Linked DNA regions of Homo sapiens. The protein of the gene in region 1 purifies or fractionates together with the protein of each later gene. This does not show direct contact. Each region holds a gene or a part of one and is shown on either strand. Other genes may lie near its edges. The genes, in order: PTCHD3, DNAJC18, VRK2, ABCD4, TMEM231, ABHD3 and ATL2.

Region 1 (3,500 bases):
AAAAGTGAAATACAATAACAGTATAGACATTTTATTAAGAAGAAGAATTTTATCTATTTAAATGTGATCTCCCCTGCAGGTCTTCAGTCATGTTCCTGCTGTTTTGAAACCAGTGGCTCCAGTTCTTCAGCTCCTAGACTAAAATTCCAAACTTAGTTTCTCTCCCCTACTAAAATATCTGAATGCAGGTATCAGTCATTTGTTTTGAAGCAATTTCTAACAAGCAAAATCTAAAACCAGAGGTTGTTGCCAATCTTTTAAAAGGTAATGTTATGGTTGCTGAGGAGGTAAAGCACTGAATCATGCTTTAAAATATTTTGTATATAGTCCTGTTTCTGTTGGTTTGCCAAGGAAACAGGCACAGTTTGGGTCATTTAAAATATAGCACATTTTAATTTTTTCCAAATTCGTAGCAACTTTTCCACAGAGCCCACTTCACCAGTAGAGAAGAATCCTGAAAGTAACTTAAAAGACTTTCCTACTTTATGTTAACAACAATACACATTGTACTAACTTTGAAATACAGGAGGCATTTAATGTTGTGTTATGGCTAGTTAGAGACCAGGGATGGATAAAAAGATAATTGGATCTATGTTCTTTCTCTAGTACAGCTTGCTCTTCATTATCTGTTATATTCCATTCACACCCTTCTGAAGATCAGAGTGGAATTAGCCATTAGCAGTGTTTTAGTAATTCTTTGTGGTTCCAAAATGCTAGTCAGTGACTTAGTGCTTGGCTGGCTGCAAAGAATCACATATAGCAGAGTCGGTAGAAGTACAGATTTACAGATTTCTAACTTTTCTGCTCCCTTTCTTTCCTTTTTTTTTTTTCAGTTGTTCTGAGATAGTCCCTGGGAATTAAAGGTCTCCAGCAGATATGTGTGGAAATTACTGTCTTAGAGATTTATGACTAGGTGTCCAAGTCAAGAATGTTATCCATTGATGAAAGCTACCACCACAAATTCCATGATTTTTCCCTCCAAATTTACAGGTTTGACTGCATACGAAACAAAATGTGTGTTGCGGCCTTTGGAGTGATTTCTGCTTTCTTGGCAGTGGTGAGCGGCTTTGGCCTGCTGTTGCACATTGGGGTGCCATTTGTCATCATAGTTGCCAATTCACCATTTCTTATTCTAGGTGAGTAAAACAAAACGGGAGGCTGCACACCGTGTATGTGGTGGGGTAGGGGATATATATAAGGGAAAGAATTGTATTAAGGTGGCTCTACAGTTCAAAAATGAGGTGCCAGGAAACAGGGAAATGAAATTGAACTGGATATCTCTAGAGGTGGAAAGATCGAGTATCCTAATGGAAAAACAGACCATGTACGTGAACAGCAGTTCACATGTAAAAAACAAAATACGCGTCATTAAAAATACAGTCATGTATCACTTAACATTGAGGGTCTGAGAGATGCATCCACAGGCAATTTTAACATCGTGTAAACTTCCTAGAGTGTACTTACACAAACCTAGATTATATTTCCTACAACGCACCTAGGCTATGTGGGCCTCTTGCTCCTAGGCTACAATCCTGTACAGCATGTTACTACGCTGAAAACTATAGGTAACTGTCACACAATGGTAAGTATTTGTATATCTAAATATATCTAAACATAGAAAAGGTACAGTAAAAATATGGTAGAAAATATGAAAAATGGTCCACCTGTATAGGGCACTTATCACGAATGGAGCTTGCAAGACTGGAAGTTGCTTTGGGTGTCAGTGAATGAATGTTGAGTGAACATAAGGTATAGGACATTCCTGTACACTACTGCAGACTTTATAAACACTGGACACTTAAGCTATGCTACATTTATTTAAAAATGTATTTTTCTTTCTTCAATAATAAATTAACCTTAGCTTACTATAATTTCATTATTTTATAAACTTTAAAGTTTCTTTTAAACTTTTTTACTTTTTGTGATAACACAGCTTAAAACACAAACACAATGGACAGCTGTACAATAGTATTTTCTTTCCTTATGTCCTGGTGTAAACAAACGTGTTGCTCTGCCAGTCTTATGAAAGTATAGCACATACAATTATGTACACAACATAATAATAAACAATTGTTACTGCTTTATGTATTCACTATGCTAAATTTTATGTCATTATTTTAGAGTGTACTCTAACTTATGAAAAAAATAGTTAACTGTAAAATAGCTTCATGTAGGTTATTCAGAAAATATTTCAGAAGAAGGCATTGTTATCATAGGAGACAATTCCACGTGTCCTGAAGACCTTCCAGTGGGACAGGATGTGGAGATGGAAGACAGTGATAGCGATGATTCTGACCCTATGTAGGCCTAGACTAATGTGTGTGGTTTTTGGTTTGTTTGTTTGTTTTTTGAGACGGAGTCTCACTCTGTCACCCAGGCTGAAGTGCAGTGGCTCAATCTCAGCTCACTGCAACCTCCGCCTCCCGGGTTCAAGCTGTTCTCCTGCCTCAGCCTCCCGAGTAGCTGGGACTACAGGCATGCACTACTATGCTCATATGTGTTTTTGTATCTTAGTTTTTAATAAAAAGTTTAGAAAGTAAAAAAATAAAATAAAAATAAAGATTTTTTATTTTATTTATTTATTTATTTATTTATTTATTTTTTTGAGACAGAGTCTCGCTCTGTCGCCCAGGCTGGAGTGCAGTGGCGTGATCTTGGCTCACTGCAAGCTCCACCTCCCGGGTTCACGCCGTTCTCCTCCCTCAGCCTCCCGAGTAGCTGGGACTACAGGCGTCCGTCACCACGCCTGGCTAATTTCTTTTTGTATTTTTAGTAGAGACAAGGTTTCACCATATTAGCCAGGATTGTCTCGATCTCCTGACCTCGTGATCCGCCCACCTTGGCCTCCCAAAGTGCTGGGATTACAGGCGTGAGCCACCGTGCCCAGCCATAAATAAAGATTTTTAAAAATAGAAAAAGGCTTATAGATTAAAGATATAAGTAAAGAAAATATTTTGTACAGCTGTCCAATGTTTTTGTATTTTAAGCTGTGTTATCATAAAAAGCCAAAAACTTTTTTAAAAACTTAAAAGTTTATAAAATAATAAAGTTACAGTAAGCTAAGGTTAATTTATTATTGAAGAAAAATATATTTTAAAATAATTTTAAATTTTAAATTTAATAATTTAATTTTAAAATTTAAATTTTAAATTTTAAAAATAACCTAAGTATCTGGTGTTTATAAAGTCTACAGTTATATACAGGAATGTCCTAGGCCTCCCTGCAAACTCTACAAAATGGCTTACATTAAATCAATTATATATATCTTAACTATAGTTATTTATGGCTGTGGGGTACACTGGATGATTAGGTGTGAGTGCATACGAGGAAGGTATGCCTTGAAAAGCTAGAATAAATAAGCTAATATCCAGTACACAACTCACTATCTCCCCCAGAAAACCAAATATTAGTTTTTCCAAGATGCTTACTTTCCAAAATATAAACACCTTTATTTTCTAATGCTTACTAAAATAAATTCTGAGCTTACCAAAAATACAAAG
Region 2 (2,912 bases), on another chromosome or scaffold:
GAGTCTTGGTGCTGGGCCTCACCTGTTCCCTGACCCCCATTCCAAAAACCCAGCCCACCTGGCTCAGAGTAAGTTCTCAATCATTGCTGAATTGAATCTCATCTCACTTTCTTTTTCAAATGAAAGCTATCATGACCAGTTAGGATCATGTAAATATCATTTACTATATTTTTAAACCAAAACTTTCCTAAATATGGGCCACTAGGACCAAAGCCAGCAAGGAACTGGGATAACACCTGAATTTCTGATGCTAAGTGTAGTTTTGATCTGTATATTGGCTGTGAGGTACTGCAGCTGCTGTTATCTGATAGAAAATGTGGAACTGATGCCAACAATGCTATCTACTATTCTAAATGCAAATAATCCCACTGACGGGTGAGGGAAGACTGGAGCAGGCGTCAAAAGCTTCTTTAGTCGGAAGTGGCTCCAAGGGAGTCAGGCGATGTGCAGTGGCCAAGGATGCCATGGGCAAAGGTAAAAGAACCAAGGAAAAGTAGCCATTCTTTTAATATAAAATTGTTTAATGTTTTTCTTTGTTGCAGTACACTCAATCCAGATGTAGTGGATGAGGTGGCCAGATTTTTTCAAGATTCTTAGTCCACCAGGAGCTGATTCCATTTGTGTCATCCCTACTCTGGTCACAGAACATTCACATCTTTAATTCCAAATACTGAGCGTGATGTAAATGATGTAATCAGTATCTAACACGAGTATATACTTTCTTGGTGGCCACTGCATGACATATCAACAGTGCAGCCTCAAAAAAAAGATGTTTTGTAACTTGGCCCTTTCCAAAAATAAATATATTAGGACACTAAGCTTATACCTTAAATGAGGGCAGAATAAATATGAATGAAGTGCAAGCTCCTGTGAGGAGCAGTGCATGCAGATGATGTACTTGCTTGTATGGTGTGGCCAGCTGTAACAGAAAGCCACTGGAACGGCACAGTGCCTCCTCACAAAGCCCATCCTGGGTATCATGAGGAAAAAGAATGACACATAGCTTGGCCAGGCTGCTGGAACCCATGTTCCAGTGGCATCTGGAGTTCACTGTATTTTCTTTTTTCTTTCTTTTTTTTTTTTTGAGACAGAGTCTTGCTCTGTCACCCAGGCTGGAGTGCAATGATGTGATCTCAGCTTACTGCAACCTCTGCCTCCCAGGCTCAAGAGATTCTTCTGCCTCAGCCTCCTGAGGAGCTGGGATTACAGACACGTGCTACCATGCCCGCCTAATTTTTGTATTTTTAGTACAGACAGGGTTTCACCATGTTGGCCAGGCTGGTCTGGAACTCCTGACCTCAAATGATCTGCCTGCCTCAGCCTTTCAAAGTGCTGGGATTACAGGCATGAGCTACTGGGCCTGGCCAGTTCACTGTATTTTCGAACAATTTCCAACAGAAAGCACAGCAGTGACGTTTCCTTACTGGTCACTGCTCCCGTGCTGTGAGGCCTGGAGCTGATCAAGGAAGCTTACACATTTCCCGGCCTGAGCAGATGAACTCTAGGGTTGCTAATCTGGGGACGTGGGTTCCTTCAAGCTCTTTGTGATGAGAAGGATTTTCATCCTCCTTTTCTCACTGCCGATCGTGCGGTAGAGAGAGCATCTTCATTTGAATGAGAGCTTCAGTTTCTGCTTGAGCCTCAAGCCCTATTTCTGAGCGCTGCTCCTCTCACACACGTCTCCAATCTGCAGTAATGCTCAAAGAAACAGTCTAGAGCTGGGTGCCAAGCTCCGGCAGCAAGAATAAGCCCTACCTAGTTATGTATGATCAGGAGATCTTCCAAAGGACGTAGGCGAGAGGAAAAAGCTTATTTTACCACCATGCAGACAACCCATCTAAAATATAACCCAGGAAATTATAGCTTCACAATATTCTGGATAGTATCAAATAGATAAATCCTTCAACCAAAAGCAAATACGGTTCCCTTGAGGAAAAACAGATGTGAATGTTGTGGTCTATTGGCAATAAATAAAACAGTACCATCGGTGCTATAAAAACAGACAATCAGCGTGACATTTAATGGAGTTAGTTATTATTGCTTCTATTTAGTATCATCACAGATTACTTATCGCTGCCATGAAGTCCATAAAATGTGTGACTACCTGATTCCTGGGCATCTAGGACAGGGTCTTTTAACCTGTCAAGTCAGTTTCATTATGGCCAATTTTCTAGCAGTGGTTGGGGATGGGGAGAGGAGAGCTTTGATTTTTTTGTGTGTAGAAGAACTTTCCATAAGCCTGTTTGGCTCATGGACATATTTTACAATGTAACCTCCCTCAGTCACTCAGAGGGGATCAAGAAGGGCCCCCTAAAACCAGGAGGACAGATCTAGTTGGGCAGCAAAATCTGGCTATTTCTAGAAATGCTCCCTCTCCCTGCAACTGAGCAGTTGTCCCCTACAAGCCACTAAAGCCCCCAATCTTTACCTGTGAACCCATCTCCTGACTCTGTGGAATGCCTGCAGAGGCATGGTAGGGAACAACCGTTCAGATGTTGATGAGCCATGCTAGGCACGTCTGTGTAAATCATGGCCATGCATTGGGATGAAGAAACTTTACTTTGGAATCTGTTTAATGTAGACTCTTTTTTTTTTTGAGATGGAGTGGAGTGCAGTGGCGTGATTTCAGCTCACTGTAACCTCCACCTTGCAAGTTGCAGCGATTCTCATGCCTCAGCCTCCCGAGTAGCTGGGACTACAGGCATGTGCCACCACACCTGGCTAATTTTTGTATTATTAGTAGAGATGGGGTTTCACTGTGTTGGCCAGGCTGGTCTTGAACTCCTGACCTCAGGTGATCCACCTGCCACAGCCTCCCAAAGTGCTGGGATTACAGGCTTGAGCCAGTGCACCCGGCCGACTCTCTACCAGAAACTTTTCTTCCAATATGAAGGAAGCATGGAGTGTAGGCT
Region 3 (3,500 bases), on another chromosome or scaffold:
CAGGATGATCTCTTTTTGATGCTTTTTTCTTACAGTTACAGATTTATGGTAATGGAAAGACTAGGAATAGATTTACAGAAGATCTCAGGCCAGAATGGTACCTTTAAAAAGTCAACTGTCCTGCAATTAGGTATCCGAATGGTAAGAATTACTTATTTCGCATGCTCCATTTCCAAATTGTTTACTTCTTGCAATATAGAAATCTTTTCCCTTTGTGGAATTATTAGAGAATGAAGGATTATTGCCCTAGAGACATCAGTTATTAGGAGTAGAGGCTATTTTGGTGAAATTGATAACAATGGGCTCTGTAAGTGACAGAATGTGCTGTGTATGGCACTGCAAACTCAATTAGGCTTTGGTTCTCCAGTCTGATCTTCTTTTTCCTTAGAGCTTTGTTTTACATACCAGAACAAGCTTTCATTGCTGTAAGAATAACCTTTCTTTTGTCAGTTATAACAATGCAAATTATGGCAAAATATATTGTCAGACATTTTAAACATGTGATGGTAGGGGGGTGCTATGAAGTTTTTATTATGAGTTTGGGATGGTGGCAATAATTAGTTGTGACAATGAATAAAATATACTTTGCCAAAGCAGAAGCAACGAACTCTTAATAGCACTCAGGCACACATTTGTTTATACTACATATTTGTCTTATATGTTTGTATTTGGTTTGTTTAAGTCTCATTTTTTCACTTTTGAGTAGCATGAAGCTGCTTATGCCAGATTGGAATGCAGCAAATAGAATGCATTAATTTTCTCATTTATCCATCCTCGAAGCCAGCAAATGTTTATTGAGTACTAAGTGTATGTAACATGCAAGGCTGAAGGGCTTTAGAGATGAAGCTAAGGAGTTTTCTATTACCATACAGAGGAAGAATACCTTTCCCTTTGCTCATGGACATGGCATTTTGTTCTGAGATTCTCAAGGCTTGATTTATAATTATTGCTTAGGTGAGGAATTGCTGAGTGGGCTTCAAGATTATTTCACCATAGATCTCTGATTTTATGCTATGTTTTTCCTCTTTGTGCAGTGCGGTTTGGCTACTGGGCTATCAGGAATTAGGCATAAGCATTTTTGAATCTTGATTTTCTTCCTTTGGAACTTCAACTAAAATACTTGATTTTTGAGGATCATTTTACTTTTTTCTAGGATGAGCAACCAGAAGATGTGATATTTTAGAATAATTAACCAGTAATTGTGAAATACATCGCTTTGTCAATGTTAATATGAAAAAACCCATGTTATTCTATATTCAAAATGTTGAAATTGATCATGAGTTCTAAATAGCAGTAAACCTTATTTTATCTATTTATTTTCACAGTTGGATGTACTGGAATATATACATGAAAATGAATATGTTCATGGTGATATAAAAGCAGCAAATCTACTTTTGGGTTACAAAAATCCAGACCAGGTAAATACATACTTTTGCTTTTAATAAAGGTCTTTAATGTATGAAACTGAAACATTCAGAAAACAAACTTCTAACCCAGAAGAGTTTACAAATGAGGGCGTAACATGATGAATGTTGTAATTTATCTTACCTGCTTATCTAATTTAATCTTTGTACCAAACTAATGAGTAATTAGGATGAGAAACTGAGAGTCAGAGGGGTTAAATAATATGTTAATGGGCACACAGTTAAGAAGTGGCTGAGCAGGAATTTGAATTTCTGAGCAAATATAGATAAGCAAAGAACCATCAAAATCCAGTGGGAGTAGAGATGGATTTATGTAGAGGTTAAAACACTGTCATATTAGTTCATCATTTCCTACTGTATAACCAATTAAGTTTTAAGCAGAGAGGCCGGGCGCGGTGGCTCATGCCTGTAATCCCAGCACTTTGAGAGGCCGAGGTGAGTGGATCACCTGAGGACAGGAGTTTGAGACCAGCCTGGCCAACATGGTGAAACCCTGTCTCTACTAAAAATACAAAAATTAGCTGGGTGTGGTGGTGGGTGCCTGTAATCCCAGCTACTCAGGAGGCTGAGGCAGGAGAATTGCTTGAACCCAGGAGGCGGATGTTGCAGTGAGCTGAGATGGTGCCATTGCACTCCATCCAGCCTGGGCAACAAGAGAGAAACTCCATCTCAAAAAAAAAAAAAAAAAAAAAGTTTTAAGCAAGCTTTTCCATTAAAATTTTGTGTAATGATGAAAATATTCTGTTTGACTGTCCAATATGGTAGCCATTAGCAGTATGTGGCTAAGTACTTAAAACGTGGTCAGTACAGTACCAACTGCTGATGAGTATTTGGAGTAACAGGAACTCTCATTTGTTGCTCATGGAAATTTGTTGCTAATGGAAATGCAAAATGATACAGCCACTTTGGAAGACAGTTGGGCAGTTACTTAGAAAGCTAGACACTCTTAACATACCAAGCAGCAGTTGTGCTCATTAGTATTTACCCAAATGAGTTGAAAACTTACATCCACACAAAAACCTGCACGTGAATGCTTGTAGTCGGTTTATTCATACTCGTCAAAACATTGAAGTAACCAAGATGTCTTTGAGTAGGTGAATGGATAAACTGATACATCCAGATAATGGAATATTATTCATTGCTAAATAGAAATGAACTTTTCAGCCATGAAAAAACATGGAAGAAACCTAAATGTATTTTACTATGTAAAAGAAGCCAATCTGAAAAGGCTAGTTACTATACAATTTCAACTATATGACATTCTGGAAAAGGCAAAACTATAGAGACAGTAAAAAGATCAATTTTTTACTATCTCCATAGGTTAGAAGGGAGAGGAAGGATGAATGAGTGAAGCACAGTGGATTTTTAGGTCAGTGAAACTATTCTGCATGATACCATAATGGTGAATACATGTCATCATTTGGTTGTTAAGATCCATAGAATGGACAAGACCAAGAGTGAACATAATGTAAACTGTGGCTTTTGGATGATAAGGATTGTCATTCTTGGTTCATTCACTATAAAAAATGTGCTACTCTAGTGAGGGATGTTGATAGCGGAGAGACTTTGTGTGGGCTTGAGGTATATGGGAACTCACTGTATTTTCCACTCAGTTTTACCTACATTGCTCTAAATTTACCTAAATCAAACCTAAAACTTCTCTAAAAAATATAGTCTGTTTAAAAAATGTAGATTATATTTTTAATATTAAAATATTAATATTGACAAACTGAATTTTTAATTTAACTTAATTTAAACTTAAATAACAATATACCTAGTTGTTACTGTATTATCACGTTTAAAGAGTTAAATGATTGAGTCTATAAAAAATTAGAAAAAATGTAATTGAATATTTGATCTCTGCATTGGTTAAATTTCTTAATAAAAATTTTTTCAAAATGAAAGGTGAATGAGAAACTGGGAAATAGATAGATAACAAATATTTGAGAATATCTAGCCGGTACTAAAAAAAAAATTAAGAAAAACACTAAATACCTTGTTAAAGCGATGATCGAAAAGAATGAATAAACAGAACAGAGAAGGAATATGACTGTCCTAGAAACAGGAAAAAAGGCT
Region 4 (3,500 bases), on another chromosome or scaffold:
ACAACCATGACAGAAGGAGAGGACATGACCTAAGGAGGACCAGCTCACCTGAGTCGGGGTAGACCTCCTTCAGGGGATATATCACCTGAGAAAAGAAAAAAACCACACCAACCTAGGAGGGCGAGCAAAAGACGGAGCTGCACACAGCCCACCCTCCCTCCAGAACCCACTGGAACCTCCCAAGGAGGAGAGGTGGGAACGCCTGGCCTGGGTCAGATGGGAGAGGCTCTGGCCGGCAGACAGCAGGGCAAGGTCCCTACAACCTTCAGAAGTGTGTTTAGGGGGAACAGTCTGACAGCCTCCTGAGGGCAGGGGCCCCAGAATCCGACCTTGGGTGTTTGACATACGCGTGTGGTATTTGGCGTGAGTCCTTGCCCCATTTACCTGCCTCAGGAGCTGCTATGAGTAGTGGGCCCAATCCATGGATGTGAATAGAAGGTTCTTAGAGCCAGCAGTTCCCAGGCCCGGGCCACTTCACCACCTCACCTTTTGCCCTGACTCTAGGACCTGAGACTTGTCACAGTGCCAGAGGTCCCAGCTGTGGGTGGGCGGGGTTGAGGAGGGAGGAGTGAGCCCCCTGAACTAGACTGACCTGCTCCCGAAGGGTCCCGTCAGTGAAGAATGGCTTTTGTGGCAGGAATAGCACCCCATGGGGCCCAAAGTCCGTCAGCATCTGCACTGAGCCTGCAGAGCCCACAGAAACCTCCATTGTGAGATCTCCCAGAAGAGGCAACTGCCTGTCTCCTCTCTTCCTTGTTCCCCAACAGAAAAGAATGGATTCTACCACACCGTCCCCGCCTTCACCCCACCCCTAGGGCCCAGGCTGGGTCAGAGGCAGGGAGGGCCTGGCTCTCACCCCGTGTACTCGTCCAGAGGCCACCCAGAACCCGGAGCAAGGAGGTCTTGCCAGTGCCCGTGTTGCCTGTGATGAGCAGGCTCTGTCCCTCGGAGATCTTTAGGCTCAGATCCTTGATTAGGGGTTTGTCAGAGGAGGGGGCAGAGATGGAGACCCGCTCAAGGAGAAATGCTGTGTCTGCTGGCTCTGCCGCTGGCCACCCTGGGGGTCTGTGTCAGAGAAGAGAGGGGGCGTGAGGAAGATGGGCAGGGTCAGTATTGCTGTGGGGGAGGCACTGCTCCCGGGAGCCACCACCTGTGGATTATTATGGGCTGACTTGCATCCTCCCAAAATCACATGCTGAAGTCCAGCCCCCTAGTGACTCAGAATGTAACTGCATTCGGAGGCAGGGTCTTTTTTTTTTTTTTTTTTTTTGAGAGAAAGTCTTGCTGTCACCCAGGCTTGAGTGCAGTGGAGCTATCTCAGCTCACTGCAACCTCCGCCTCCTGGGTTCAAGCGATTTTCCTGTCCCAGCCTCCTGAGTAGCTGGATTACAGGTGCCCACCACCGTGCCCATATTTTTAGTAGAGACAGGGTTTCACTATGTTGGCCAGTCTGGTCTCGAACTTGTGACCTCAGGTGATCTGCCCACCTCAGCCTCCCAAAGTGGTGGGATTATAGACGTGAGCTTCCGTGCCCAGCTGGAGGCAGGGTCTTTAAAGAGATGATGTTAACATGAAGTTGTTGGGGTGGGACCCTAATCCAATATGACTGGTGTCCTCTTAAGATAGAGGTGGCAGGGGCACGCACATATAAAGGAAAGGCCACGTGAGGACACAGCAACAAGGTGGCCATCTACAAGCCAAGGAGTGGCCTAAGAAACCAACCCTGCTGACAACTTGATCGTGGACCATAAGCATCCAGAATTGTGAGGAAATTAATTTCTATTGTTTAAGCCAGCCGGTTTGTGGTTTTCTGTCATGGCAGCCTGAGCACATTAATACAGGGGTAGGGGTGGAACTTCTACTCTCTGCCTGGCTGGACAAAGCCCCTTATGGGACTGATCTTACTCAGTCTAATGCCCATGAGTCTCAAATATCATCACAGATGAGGACACTAAGAATCAGGTGGCTAAGTAACTGCCCAGGTTGCAGAGCGGTATTCAACAAATTCTAATGCTGGTGGGTCTTCATGGCATCACAGTGTGACCAGAGTACTAATAACAAGAATGGGAGTGGTTAAAGCTAAATGGTTCTGGAGTTTCTGCCTCTGCATGGATGCCTGGCTCCCCACAGAACAGCAATTCCAGTTTCCTACAGACCCTCCTTCATGCCCAGCCTCTGCACTCATGGTTGCATGAAGCTTTCATTTGGAACAGAAGCAACAGTTAAGGTATTAGCTCCTAAGAAAAGCAAGTTGAGTGTAGGCCCTGGAATTCAGACTGATTTTTGAAAGCTTATGATGTGGCCACTGTCCAAGCACTTTCCATGGATGATGATATCTAATCCCTACAACAAGTGAAGGAAGTTCATTATGACCTCCTTTTCAGACATGAAGAAACAGAACAGTTAGGTAATCTGCCCAAGGAAAGTGTGGAGATCAAGCAAATCCTGAATGCACAGAAATATTACAGATCCACGCAGACACACGGATACAGACATCTCTGGGGCTGAGTGAGGTGGGGGAACAAAGACAGACATGCCCCAAGGAAAGGGGCAGGGAGAGGAATCAGCGGGAGGAGGAAGCACAGGAAGGGGAGGACACTGCAGATTCCTGTTATCTCAGGCAGAAGGTGTGTGTACTTTGCTTCCACTGGCCGGGGAATGGTGTAAATTAACACAACAGATGCCGGAACAGCAACATCGACTGTGAACTTACATGTGCCTGGCATTCCATTTCCATTTACTCCTTACAACTCTGCTGCCCAGCTGGGAAAGGGCAGGACTCCAGGGTAACCCAAGCCAGGTGATGCCACAGCCTGCAGCCTCAACTACTGCTCTGCCAGCCCGCTACTCACGTGTCCAAGCCCCACTCGCTCTCGCCCAGGATCTCGCAGTCCTGTGACTTCAGGGACATGTCCAGAAGCGTCTCCCGAAGCTGCCCAATTCTGAACAAGAAAAGAAAATCTGAGGCAGGGTCTGGGAGCCAGGTGAAGGTGAACTCCTTTTCCTATCTCACACCCACGAGTACATGGTATGTCTCTGTTCCTTTTTTCACTCAGCCACTTCTGCCAGCAGCACACACTTTGCTCAGGAGCCAGAGGGGTGGGACACGGCCTCACCTGTGCGTGTAGCCAGCCACATCTGAGAGCGTCGTGGACAGGTCGATGAGCTGGGTGAAGCAGCTGATGAGGTAGATGCACACAAAGGCATTCTGGACAGGATGGGAAGAGGTCAAGCAGGTCTCGACTCGAGCCCACAGACACTGGGCCAAGGACAGAGAGGGACAGCATGTGGGGTGACCAAGAGGGAGTCTCACCTTGCTGACCAGGGTGCTAAGCTCTGCGGGACTCAGGTCTCCATAGACCCCGCTGAAAATGGGGATTGCGATGACAACGTAACTCAGGATGCTGCCCAGATAGTCAAAGGTGTTGATGCCGACTGTAGAAAACACATCTGTGAGACACCCAGGAACCATCCACATGCCCTACAGCGGACACAACCCT
Region 5 (3,012 bases), on another chromosome or scaffold:
TTTCATTCTCAGCCCCCTCAGCAGCACTGGGGGAAGAAAGCATTGTCACAACAGGTTCTTTCTGGCCCTCACCCAACAGCCTGGGCACTTGGCCCTCCTCCTCCTTGACAGCCCTCCCCCTTCCTGCAAAGGACAGGGGCGACAGGGGTTGGTGTTGGGATTGGCTCCCGCTGCCTGACAACCACAAGTTTATTTGGAAGGCTAGCGGGAAGCCCAGCGGCTGGCGTTTCCCTTGACTAAGGAACAGGGTGCCCATCAGAGTGGGGCGGGCAGCTTTGGGAAGGACACAAGAAGCAGTAAGAGTGTAAAGAGGATGCTGGCCTGGGCAGGCCAGTCCAGCCTGGCCACTAGCAGAATACCAAGCAGTCCAGTGGATTACCCTCGTGGCTAAGCAAGTGTCTGCAGGAGCAGAGATGGCTGGAAGGGGCCTCTGCACACGGAAGATGGCTTGTTCAGCCCATTCACCTCCTGAGGATGTGGGCAGTCTCCTCCAAGAACACATGGAGCTGCTTCCTGATCCCAAGCAGGTCATTGCCACTGGAAGGACATGGCCCCGGTGATCCATGCTTCATGCCCACCCAGAAACACACCCCTCAGTGTGTGCCTCAGTTTACTTTGGAGATCAGTTGTCGTTTTTAGTGCTCCTTTAGGCTTACTAAAACAGTTTTGGAAACAAAGCTATTTTGAAGTATTCAAGCAGAGGAATTCCCTAACACTGACCCCCTTGTCTTTTTTTAATATTCAGGCTGTTTTATATGCCTAAATTTTTTTCTTAAGATCTAAACGAAAAATAGTTTCTTGTTTAAATTCACATAAGGCAATGAGATATGGAAAGATGACAAGATACGTATAAACATTGGTTTGCATTTTATTAAATTATTCTAATGCAAATCTTGTATAAAGAACCCATGATGTTTTGTAACTTTCTAATTAAAATGTTCAAAATGAGGCCGAGCATGGTGGTTCATTCCTGTAATCTCAACACTTTGGGAGGCCAAGGTGGGAGGATCACTTGAGCCCAGGAGCTTGAGGCTGCAGTGTGCTATGATTGCACCACTGTACTGTAGCCTGGGTGACAGAGTGAGACCCTATCTGTTAAAATAAATAAATAAATAAATAAAAAAGTCAAAATGGAAGATCACATGTACCTTTTTCGAGGGAAAGGGTTTGGAATGGCAAAGAATAGGGAGGGCAGAGGTTGCACACACCTGTCTTTATTACTCATCTACAGCCATGCTTTACAAGGCTCTGCCTAACGACCTTGGAACTTCCATGAGGTCTTTGGTGAAAGTCCCCTAGTTCTTCCCCAGGTAGATGAGTTTTCAGTGGGATTCACATGCCATGTGAAATCTACGTGTTGGATAATTATGACTGTGTCTGGTGAATATGAAATTATTTACAGACCAGATGTTGATAGTTTCTGACTCTGAATCACAGCATAGCTGCAAGAGGTAAATAAAAAGCAAGAGGCCGGGAGCGGTGGCTCACGCCTGTAATCCCAGCACTTTGGGAGGCCGAGGTGGGTGAATCACAAGGTCAGGAGATCGAGACCATCCTGGCCAACATGGTGAAACCCCATCTCCACTAAAAATACAAAAATTGGCTGGGTGTGGCGACACGTGCCTGTCATCCCAACTATTTAGTAGGCTGAGGCAGGAGAATCGCTTGAACCCTGGAGGCGGAGGTTGCAGTGAGCCGAGATTGCGCCACTGCACTCCAGCCTGGCAACAGAGCTAGACTCCGTCTCAAAAAAAAAAAAAAAAAGAAATATAGAGGATTTTATTAACTCAGCTCCGACCCATAGCTAAGTTAAGGTTTGATGTTATTACTGAATATTTGGAGGCAGAAAGACTCCTGATTTTGCCAAATGATTAGTACAGTTTCGGCTTAAGTCAGATGAGGCCCCCCTAATATTCCATCATGTAAGGCTAATAAAGCAATTATTTCTTTTTTTTTTTTCCTTCCAACTTTTATTGTAGACTCATGGGGTATATGTATGGGTTTCGTATATAGCTAAATTGTACAACCTGGGGGTTTGGTGTACAGATTATTTCATCACCCACGTAATAAGCATAGTACCCAGTAGGTGGTTTTTCTTTTCTTTTTCTTTTTCTTTTTTTTTTTTTTTTTTGAGACAGAGTCTCACTCTGTTACCCAGGCTGGAGTGCAGCAGCATGATCTCAGCTCATTGCAGCCTCTACCTCCCAGGTTCAAGTGATTCTCCTGCCTTACCCTCCCGAGTAGCTGGGATTACGGGTGCCCACCACCATGCCCGGCTAATTTTTGTGTTTTTAGTAGAGACAGGGCTTCACCCTGGTGGTCAGGCTGGTCTCGAACTCCTGACCTCAAGTGATCCATCCGCTTTGGCCACCCAAAGTGCTGGGATCACAGCAGTTTGATCACAGAAGTTATTATGGTTGGCATTCTGGCACACATCTTTCTAATCTTTTTTGTTGTATGTAACCTTTTTAGTATCACAAACAACACTTTTATAAACCTTGTGTAGAAATCATTGTTGCTGGTTTATTTCCTTAAGATACATTCAGAAAACTTATGACCATTGTTAAGGATCTTAATTCATTGCCAAACCACAGCCAGGAAAGACTGCTAATTTCTACTCCCAGCAGCAGGGACTCCTCGTTTCAGATACCACCATGGATTAAAGGACCTCCCAATGCTCTATCCTTTTCAGATTACTGGACTCTGCCCGTTTGTTTCTTTGTTTTTGAGATGGAGTCTCGCTTTGTCACCCAGTCTGGAGTGCAATGGCCCCATCTCCGCTCACTGCAGCCTCCACCTCCGGGGTTCAAGCTATTCTCCTGTCTCAGCCTACCTAGTAGCTGGGATTACAGGCATGTGCTACCATGCGCGGCTAAATTTTGTATTTTCAGTAGAGATGGGGTTTTGCCACGTTGACCAGGCTGGTCTTGAACTCCTGACCTCAAGTGATCTGCCTGCCTTGCCTCCCAAAGTGCCGGGATTACAGTCATATGCCACCAGGCCAGGCTGAGC
Region 6 (3,500 bases), on another chromosome or scaffold:
GACATTCACATGAAAACCATGTGTTTAAATGTGTTATATATTGAAGCATGGTCAACTTTACATATTTTAATATTTTAAGTGTCTACTGCAGTGTAGTACAGCTGAGGCTATCTGTATATACATACTATTAGAAAAGAAAATGTTTGGCCAGGCACAGTGGCTCACGCCTGTAATCCCAGCACTGTGGGAAACCAGGGCGGGTAGATCATTTGAGGTCAGGAGTCCCAGACCAGCCTGGCCAACATGGTGAAATCCTGTCTCTACTAAAAATTCAAAAAAAATAGGCCGGGCACGGTGGCTCACACCTGTAATCCTAGCACTTTGGGAGGCCAAGGCGGGCAGATCATGAGGTCAGGAGTTAGAGACCAGCCTGGCCAACATGGTGAAACCCCATCTCTACTAAAAATACAAAAATTAGCCAGGCGTGGTGGTACGTACCTGTAGTCCCAGCTACTCAGGAGACTGAGGCAGGAGAATCGCTTGAACCCGCGAGGCAGAGGTTGCAGTGAGCCAAGATCGCGCCACAGCACTCCATCCTGGCAACAGAGCGAGACTGTGTCTCAAAAATAAAATAAAATAAAGATTAGCTGGTGCACACCTGCAGTCCCAGCTACTCAGGAAGCTAAGGCAGGAGAATTGCTTGAACCCAGGAGGCAGAGGGGTACTAGTGAGCTGAGATTGTGCCACTGCACCCCAGCCTGGGCGACAGAGCAAGAATCCATCTCAAAAAAAATAAATAAAATAAAAATAAATTTAAAAATAAAAGAAAATATTCAGTTAATAAATTAGACCGTAGATTGCTTTATCTAGAGTGAAGACAGCACTAGGAAACCATACTCTTTCATTGGCAGACAGCACTCAAGGTGGAGAAAACAGTTCCCCAGTTAGAAATGAGCTACAATTTAAAATTTTGGGGATTTGGGGTACACTATTGAAAAGCCCCTTTTGCTTTTTTTTTTTTTTGAGATGGAGTCTCACTCTGTCACCCAGACTGGAGTGCAGTGGCGTGATCTCAGCTCACTGCAAGCTCCACCTCCCGGGTTCACGCCATTCTCCTGCCTCAGCCTCCTGAGTAGCTGGGACTACAGCGCCCACCACCACACCTGGCTAATTTTTTGTATTTTTAGTAGAGACAGGGTTTCGCTGTTTTAGCCAGGATCTCCATCTCCTGAGCTCATGATCCACCTGCCTTGGCCTCCCAAAGTGCTGGGATTACAGGTGTGAGCCACTGCGCCTGGCTGCTTGTTTGTTTTTTAATAAATAATGATTTTACTTGGGAGGCCAAGATGGGAGGATTACTTAAACTCAGGAATTTGAGACCAGCCTGGGCAGCATAGCAAGATCCTGTCTCTACAAAAAAATAAAAAATTTGCCAGGCATGGTGGTGCATGCCTATAGTCCCAGCTACTCAGGAGGCTGAAGCAGGAGGAGCACTTGAACAAGGAAGTCGAGGCTACAGTGAGCTGTGATCATACCATTGCACTCCAGCCTAGAAACAGAGCAGGACCATGTCTCAAAAAAATTTTTTTTGGCCAGACGTGGTGGCTCATACCTGTAATCCCAGCACTTTGTGAGGCTGAGGCAGGCGGATCACTTGAGGTCAGGGGTTCAAGATCAGCCTGGTCCACATGGTGAAACCCCATCTCTACTAAAAATGCAAAAATTAGCCGGGCATGGTGGTGGGTGTCTGTAATCCCAGCTACTCAGGGGAGTGAGGCAGGAAAATCATTTGAACCTGGGAGGCAGAGGTTGCAGTGAGCCGAGATCACATCACTGCACTCCAGCCTGGGCAACAGAGCAAAACTCCATCTCAAAAATAATAATATTTTTAAAGTTACTTTGGGCCAGGCACAGGCTCACACCTATAATCCCAACACGTTGGGGGGCCAAAGCAGGTGAATCACTGTAACCCAGGAGTTCAAGACCAACCTGGACAACATAGCAAGACCCCCCTGTCTCTACAAAACATTTTTTTAAAAATCTGTTTGTGGTGGCCTATACCTGTGGTTCCAGCTACTTGGGAGTTTAAGGTCAGAGGATTGCTTGAGCCTGGGAGGTCGAGGCTGCAGTGAGCTGTGATCATGCCACTGCAATCTAGCCTGAGTGACAGTGCAAGACTCTGTCTTTCCAAAACAAACAAAAAAAAAGGTTATTTTGTCTTTGAGGGTACAGGTTGTTTTTTGTTTAATAGAAAGCACAGTTCTCTGCTTTTTTTCCTAAACTGCTCTGGTTAAGTTGGAGACACGTTTGAGTATGGTACTTTGTTTAATTGAAGGTATTTGTATTGGTCTTGCCCCATCTGCATCAAGCCTTCCTTGCATGTTCATGGTCTTTTTGTTAGTGCCAACTCTAACTGTGCTGACTTTAAATGGCATGTATGTGCGCTGCAAGACAGGAAAATGATAAATTATTAATACTACAGTATGTGCAAACAAAGGTTATTTTCTCATATGTATGACTCCTTGCTCCTGTTTACATTTCTGCATTTTACAAATCATTAACCTCACATTGTAATTTTTGTGCTTTACTTGTCACTACTTCCAGACGCCAAGGACTTATTGTTGTGCTAACACTGAAGACTTGGAGACAGTTATTCACCATGTACACAGCCTGTACCCTTCTGCTCCTTTCCTGGCAGCAGGGGTTTCAATGGGAGGGTAAGGTTTTCCCTTTCTAAAATAATCTCTGAGAGGGAAGCTATTTTATTGGCTGTCTCTTTGAGAGGACTATAAGCTAGCTGTATGGACACTTTTTAAATAAATGTCTGATTATGTTTATCATATTTTATTAAATGCGGTTGATTGAATGAACGAAGGAAGGAAAGAATTAATTCAGGTGAATTTTAATATTTTTCTTAACTACGGGTCTCTGTGACTGCGGATTTTGTGAGCCTGAAGGTTTGTCTGAAGCCCATGAAGTCGATTGCATCACTCACCGGCTGCCATGTTGACCTTCTGATTCCTGACGCACTCCCAGCCATCCCTGGAGCTGCGTTCTGAAGCTGAACTTGTAGCATGACTTTCATCACTCCAGTTACAGAAATAATCACTTATTGCTCTCTCCAGCTGCAGTGGCCTTCAAAATTATTTTTCCCCAGGTGGTATTTTGTTTTGTTTTGTTTTGTTGCTGGGCAAATGGAACTACTGTGGAGTGCTCTCCTAGAAACTGAAATTTTGTTAACCCCCTACTCCAGCTGTTATTTTAAGCATACGGATATTGTCATTTGTGCTGCTTGCAATTACTTTGGGGCTTATTTGGAACTTTCCTATTTAGGCTTATTTCTACTAATTGTTTTTGGGGTTTTTTTTTTTGGTTGTTCTAGTGATGGTGAGCTTAAGGAAATCCAAAATTTTTATTATCGGGAATTTTACTAAGCTTTTAGATTCCTGAAGCCATTGTCCAAAACTAGTTTTTTAAATCAGCAAATACTGAAGATAGAAAATGATATTTTTTCATAATTTTATAATTGGTTTATCTGTCATTTCAGTTTTTAGAACATC
Region 7 (3,500 bases), on another chromosome or scaffold:
AATAAAAAGAGATACGAATAAACAATCAATATATGATTAACAATTTAAGGCCGGGCGCGGTGGCTCATGCCTATAATCTCAGCACTTTGGGAGGCCAAGGCGGGCAGATCACGAGGTCAGGAGATCGAGAACATCCTGGCTAACACGGTGAAACCCCGTCTCTATTAAAAATACAAAAAAAAATTAGCCGGGCATGGTGGCGGGCGCCTGTAGTCCCAGTTACTACAGAGGCTGAGGCAGGAGAATACCATGAACCCGGAAGGCGGAGCTTGCAGTGAGCCACTGCACTCCAGCCCGGGGAACAGAGCAAGAATCCATCTCAAAAAAAAAAAAAAAAAAAAAACCGCCCATTTAAAACAACTTTTTTTTTTTTTTTGAGACGGAGTTTCACTCTTTTCACCCAGGCTGGAGTGCAATGGCGCGATCTCGGCTCACTGCCACCTCCGCCTCCAGGGTTCAAGTGATTCTCCAGCCTCAGCCTCTGGAGTAGCTGGGATTACAGGCGCTTGCCACCATGCCCAGCTAATTTTTGTATTTTTAGTAGAGATGGGGTTTCACCATGTTGTCCGGGCTGGTCTCGAACTTCTGACCTCAGGTGATCCTCCCACCTTGGCCTCCTAAAGTGCTGGGATTACAAACGTAAACCACCACGCCCGGCCTAAAACAACTTTTTTTTTTTTTTGAGGAGTCTCGCTCTCTCTCCCAGTCTGGAGTGCAGTGGCGCAATCTCGGCTCACTGCAAGCTCCACCTTCCGGGTTCACACCATTCTCCTGCCTCAGGCTCCCCAACAGCTGGGACTACAGGCGCCTGCCACCACGCCCGGCTAATTTTTTGTATTTTTAGTAGAGATGGGGTTTCACTGTGTTAGCCAGGATGGCCTCTATCTCCTGACCTCATGATCCACCCACCTCAGCCTCCCAAAGTGCTGGCATTACAGGCGTAAGCCACCGCACCTGGACTCTAAAATAAGGACTTTTTTTTTTTTTTTTTAATTTGAGACGGAGTTTCACTCTTGTTGCCCAGGCTGGAGCGCAATGGTGCAATCTCAGTTCACCTCAACCTCCACCTCCCAGGTTCAAGCGATTCTCCTGCCTCAGCCTCCCTAGTAGCTGGGATTACAGGCATGTGCCACCACGCCCGGCTAATTTTGTATTTTTAGTAGAGGCGGGGTTTCTCCATGTTGGTCAGGCTGGTCTCGAACTCCCCACCTCAGGTGATCCGCCCGCCTTGGCCTCCCAAAGTGCTGGGATTACAGGCATGAGCCACTGCACCCAGCCATAACAACTTTTTAAAAGCACTCCAATAGCATGCCTAAAGACTAAGACTACCACTAATAAGTTCAAAAAAATTGCCAATTTATTTAAGAAAAACATGAAAGAAACCAACACACACAATTCTCACCAAAAAAATACAAAATTAAAAAGCAAATATGAAAAATAATTTCCTGCATGCAAACAGGCTTTTACAAAACAATAAAAGAAATACTGGGAAATGCTCAAAAAATATTAAAAAGCAATTAATAAAAAGAAGTCAGAGCTGGGCACAGTAACTAACGCCTGTAATCCCAGCACTGAGAGGTGGAGGTTGGAGGATCGCTTAACCCCAGGAGTTCGAGACTAGCCTGGGCAACATAGTGATACCTCATCTCTAAAAAAGTAAATAAACTAATTCACATTTTCAATTTCCATATCACTATTCCAACATCAACTACAATCAAAAAATTGCAAATTAAACTGTAATATGCCCATTTTTACCTATATGTTGGCATTTATTTTTAATTAACACCCACTGTGAACAAAGATACTTGCAAACAAGCACAAACCTAACCCTGATGAATAAATGGGTAAAACCTTTCTGAATGGATCTAGCTTTTTCTTGAAAATGTACATGTCAGGCCAGGTGCAGTGCCTCACACCTGTAATCCCAGCACTTTGGGAGGCCAAGGTGGGTGGATCACCTGAGGTCAGGAGTTCAAGACCAGCCTGACCAACATAGTGAAACCCCCATCTCTACTAAAAATACAAAATTAGCTGGGCGTGGTGGCACATGCCTGTAATCCCAGCTACTTGGGAGGCAGAGGCACGAGAATCAGTTGAACTCAGAAGGTAGAGTGAGCCGAGACTGCTCTACTGCACTCCAGCCTGGGCGACAGAGTAAGACTCTGTCTCAAAGAAAAAATAAATAAATTTTTTTAGTAGAGACGGGGTTTCACTATGTTGGTCAGGCTGGTCTCGAACTCCTGACTTTGTCATCCACCCGCCTTAGCCTCCCAAAGTGCTGGGATTACAGTCGTGAGCCACCATGCTCGGCCAATTTTTTTTTTTTAATTAGCCAGGCATGGTGGCACACACCTGTAAGTCCCAGCTACTCAGGAGACTAAGGCAGGAGGTTCACTTGAGCCCAGAAGGTGGAGGCTGCATATTTGAGACCCTATCTCAAAAATAAGTACATAAATAAAAAATAAAAATTAAAGTGCTGATAAAAAGAAAACAGCAATTTATGAAGATGCTATTAATAGCCATCTTGAAAAAATTCTAAGAACAGGGGTGTTTTCCCGTCAAAACTCCTCTCGGATTTGTCATTAAAAAAAATCAAAGCCGGGCGCGGTGGCTCACGCCAGTAATCCCAGCACTTTGGGAAGCCGAGGCAGGTGGATCACGAGGTCAGGAGATTGAGACCATCCTGGCTAACACGGTGAAACCCCGTCTCTACTAAAAAAAATACAAAAAATTAGCCGGGCGAGGTGGCGGGCGCCTGTAGTCCCAGGTACTCGGGAGGCTCAGGCAGAAGAATGGCGTGAACCCCGGGGGGCGGAGCCTGCAGTGAGCCGAGATCCCGCCACTGCACTCCAACCTGGGCGACAGCGAGACTCCGTCAAAAAAAAAAAAAAAAAAAAAGAAAGAAAATCAAGACCGGGCGGTCGCTCACACCTGTAATCCCAGCACTTTGGGGGCCGAGGTGGGTGGATCACCTGAGGTCAGGAGTTTGAAACCAGCCTGGTCTGTCTCTACTAAAAATACAAAAATTAGCCGGGCACGGTGGCGGGCACCTGTAATCTCAGCTGCTCGGGAGGCTAAGGCAAGAGAATCACTTGAACCTGGGAGGCGGAGGTTACAGTGAGCCAAGATCGCGCCACTGCGCTCCAGCCTGGGAGACAGAGTGAGACTCTGTCCCAAAAAAAAAAAAAAAAAAAAAAAAAAAAAAAAAATCAACCCAGCCAGCACAGTGGCTCATGCCTGTAATCCCAGCACTTTGGGAGCCCAAGGCGGGCGGATCACTTGTGGTCAGAAGTTTGAGACCAGCCTGACCAACGTGGTAAGACCCGTCTCTACTAAAAAATACAAAAATTAGGCGTGGTAGCGGGTGCCTGTAGTCCCAGCTACTTGGGAGGCTGGGGCAGAAGAATCTCTTGAACCCAGAGGTGGAGGTTGCAGTGAGCCAAGACTGTGCCACTGCACTCCAGCCTGAGTGACAGAGCAAGACTCGATCTCAAAACGAA

Evidence for each region.
Region 2: the proteins of PTCHD3 (region 1) and DNAJC18 purify together in Homo sapiens (affinity purification with mass spectrometry; one large-scale study listed by BioGRID and IntAct). This does not show direct contact.
Region 3: the proteins of PTCHD3 (region 1) and VRK2 purify together in Homo sapiens (affinity purification with mass spectrometry; one large-scale study listed by BioGRID and IntAct). This does not show direct contact.
Region 4: the proteins of PTCHD3 (region 1) and ABCD4 purify together in Homo sapiens (affinity purification with mass spectrometry; one large-scale study listed by BioGRID and IntAct). This does not show direct contact.
Region 5: the proteins of PTCHD3 (region 1) and TMEM231 purify together in Homo sapiens (affinity purification with mass spectrometry; one large-scale study listed by BioGRID and IntAct). This does not show direct contact.
Region 6: the proteins of PTCHD3 (region 1) and ABHD3 purify together in Homo sapiens (affinity purification with mass spectrometry; one large-scale study listed by BioGRID and IntAct). This does not show direct contact.
Region 7: the proteins of PTCHD3 (region 1) and ATL2 purify together in Homo sapiens (affinity purification with mass spectrometry; one large-scale study listed by BioGRID and IntAct). This does not show direct contact.

Annotation. Positions count from the first base shown.
Region 1 is NC_000010.11:27,400,848-27,404,347, reverse strand, and holds part of PTCHD3 (patched domain-containing protein 3), read left to right. Parts: intron 1-990; coding exon 991-1,136; intron 1,137-3,500. UniProt on the Homo sapiens protein: May play a role in sperm development or sperm function. However, does not appear to have an essential role in spermatogenesis or male fertility.
Region 2 is NC_000005.10:139,409,703-139,412,614, forward strand, and holds the end of DNAJC18 (dnaJ homolog subfamily C member 18), read right to left. Parts: 3' UTR 501-2,912; downstream 1-500.
Region 3 is NC_000002.12:58,088,306-58,091,805, forward strand, and holds part of VRK2 (serine/threonine-protein kinase VRK2), read left to right. Parts: intron 1-35; coding exon 36-141; intron 142-1,325; coding exon 1,326-1,418; intron 1,419-3,500. UniProt on the Homo sapiens protein: Serine/threonine kinase that regulates several signal transduction pathways.
Region 4 is NC_000014.9:74,289,435-74,292,934, forward strand, and holds part of ABCD4 (lysosomal cobalamin transporter ABCD4), read right to left. Parts: intron 3,436-3,500; coding exon 3,314-3,435; intron 3,209-3,313; coding exon 3,117-3,208; intron 2,943-3,116; coding exon 2,853-2,942; intron 1,066-2,852; coding exon 857-1,065; intron 685-856; coding exon 593-684; intron 86-592; coding exon 49-85; intron 1-48. UniProt on the Homo sapiens protein: Lysosomal membrane protein that transports cobalamin (Vitamin B12) from the lysosomal lumen to the cytosol in an ATP-dependent manner. Targeted by LMBRD1 lysosomal chaperone from the endoplasmic reticulum to the lysosomal membrane.
Region 5 is NC_000016.10:75,536,241-75,539,252, reverse strand, and holds the end of TMEM231 (transmembrane protein 231), read left to right. Parts: 3' UTR 1-2,512; downstream 2,513-3,012. UniProt on the Homo sapiens protein: Transmembrane component of the tectonic-like complex, a complex localized at the transition zone of primary cilia and acting as a barrier that prevents diffusion of transmembrane proteins between the cilia and plasma membranes.
Region 6 is NC_000018.10:21,663,275-21,666,774, reverse strand, and holds part of ABHD3 (phospholipase ABHD3), read left to right. Parts: intron 1-2,544; coding exon 2,545-2,657; exon of another isoform or gene 2,658-3,014; coding exon of another isoform or gene 3,015-3,097; intron 3,098-3,500. UniProt on the Homo sapiens protein: Phospholipase that may play a role in phospholipids remodeling. May selectively cleave myristate (C14)-containing phosphatidylcholines through its predominant phospholipase 1 activity, cleaving preferentially acyl groups in sn1 position.
Region 7 is NC_000002.12:38,367,274-38,370,773, forward strand, and holds part of ATL2 (atlastin-2), read right to left. Parts: intron 1-3,500. UniProt on the Homo sapiens protein: Atlastin-2 (ATL2) is a membrane-anchored GTPase that mediates the GTP-dependent fusion of endoplasmic reticulum (ER) membranes, maintaining the continuous ER network. It facilitates the formation of three-way junctions where ER tubules intersect.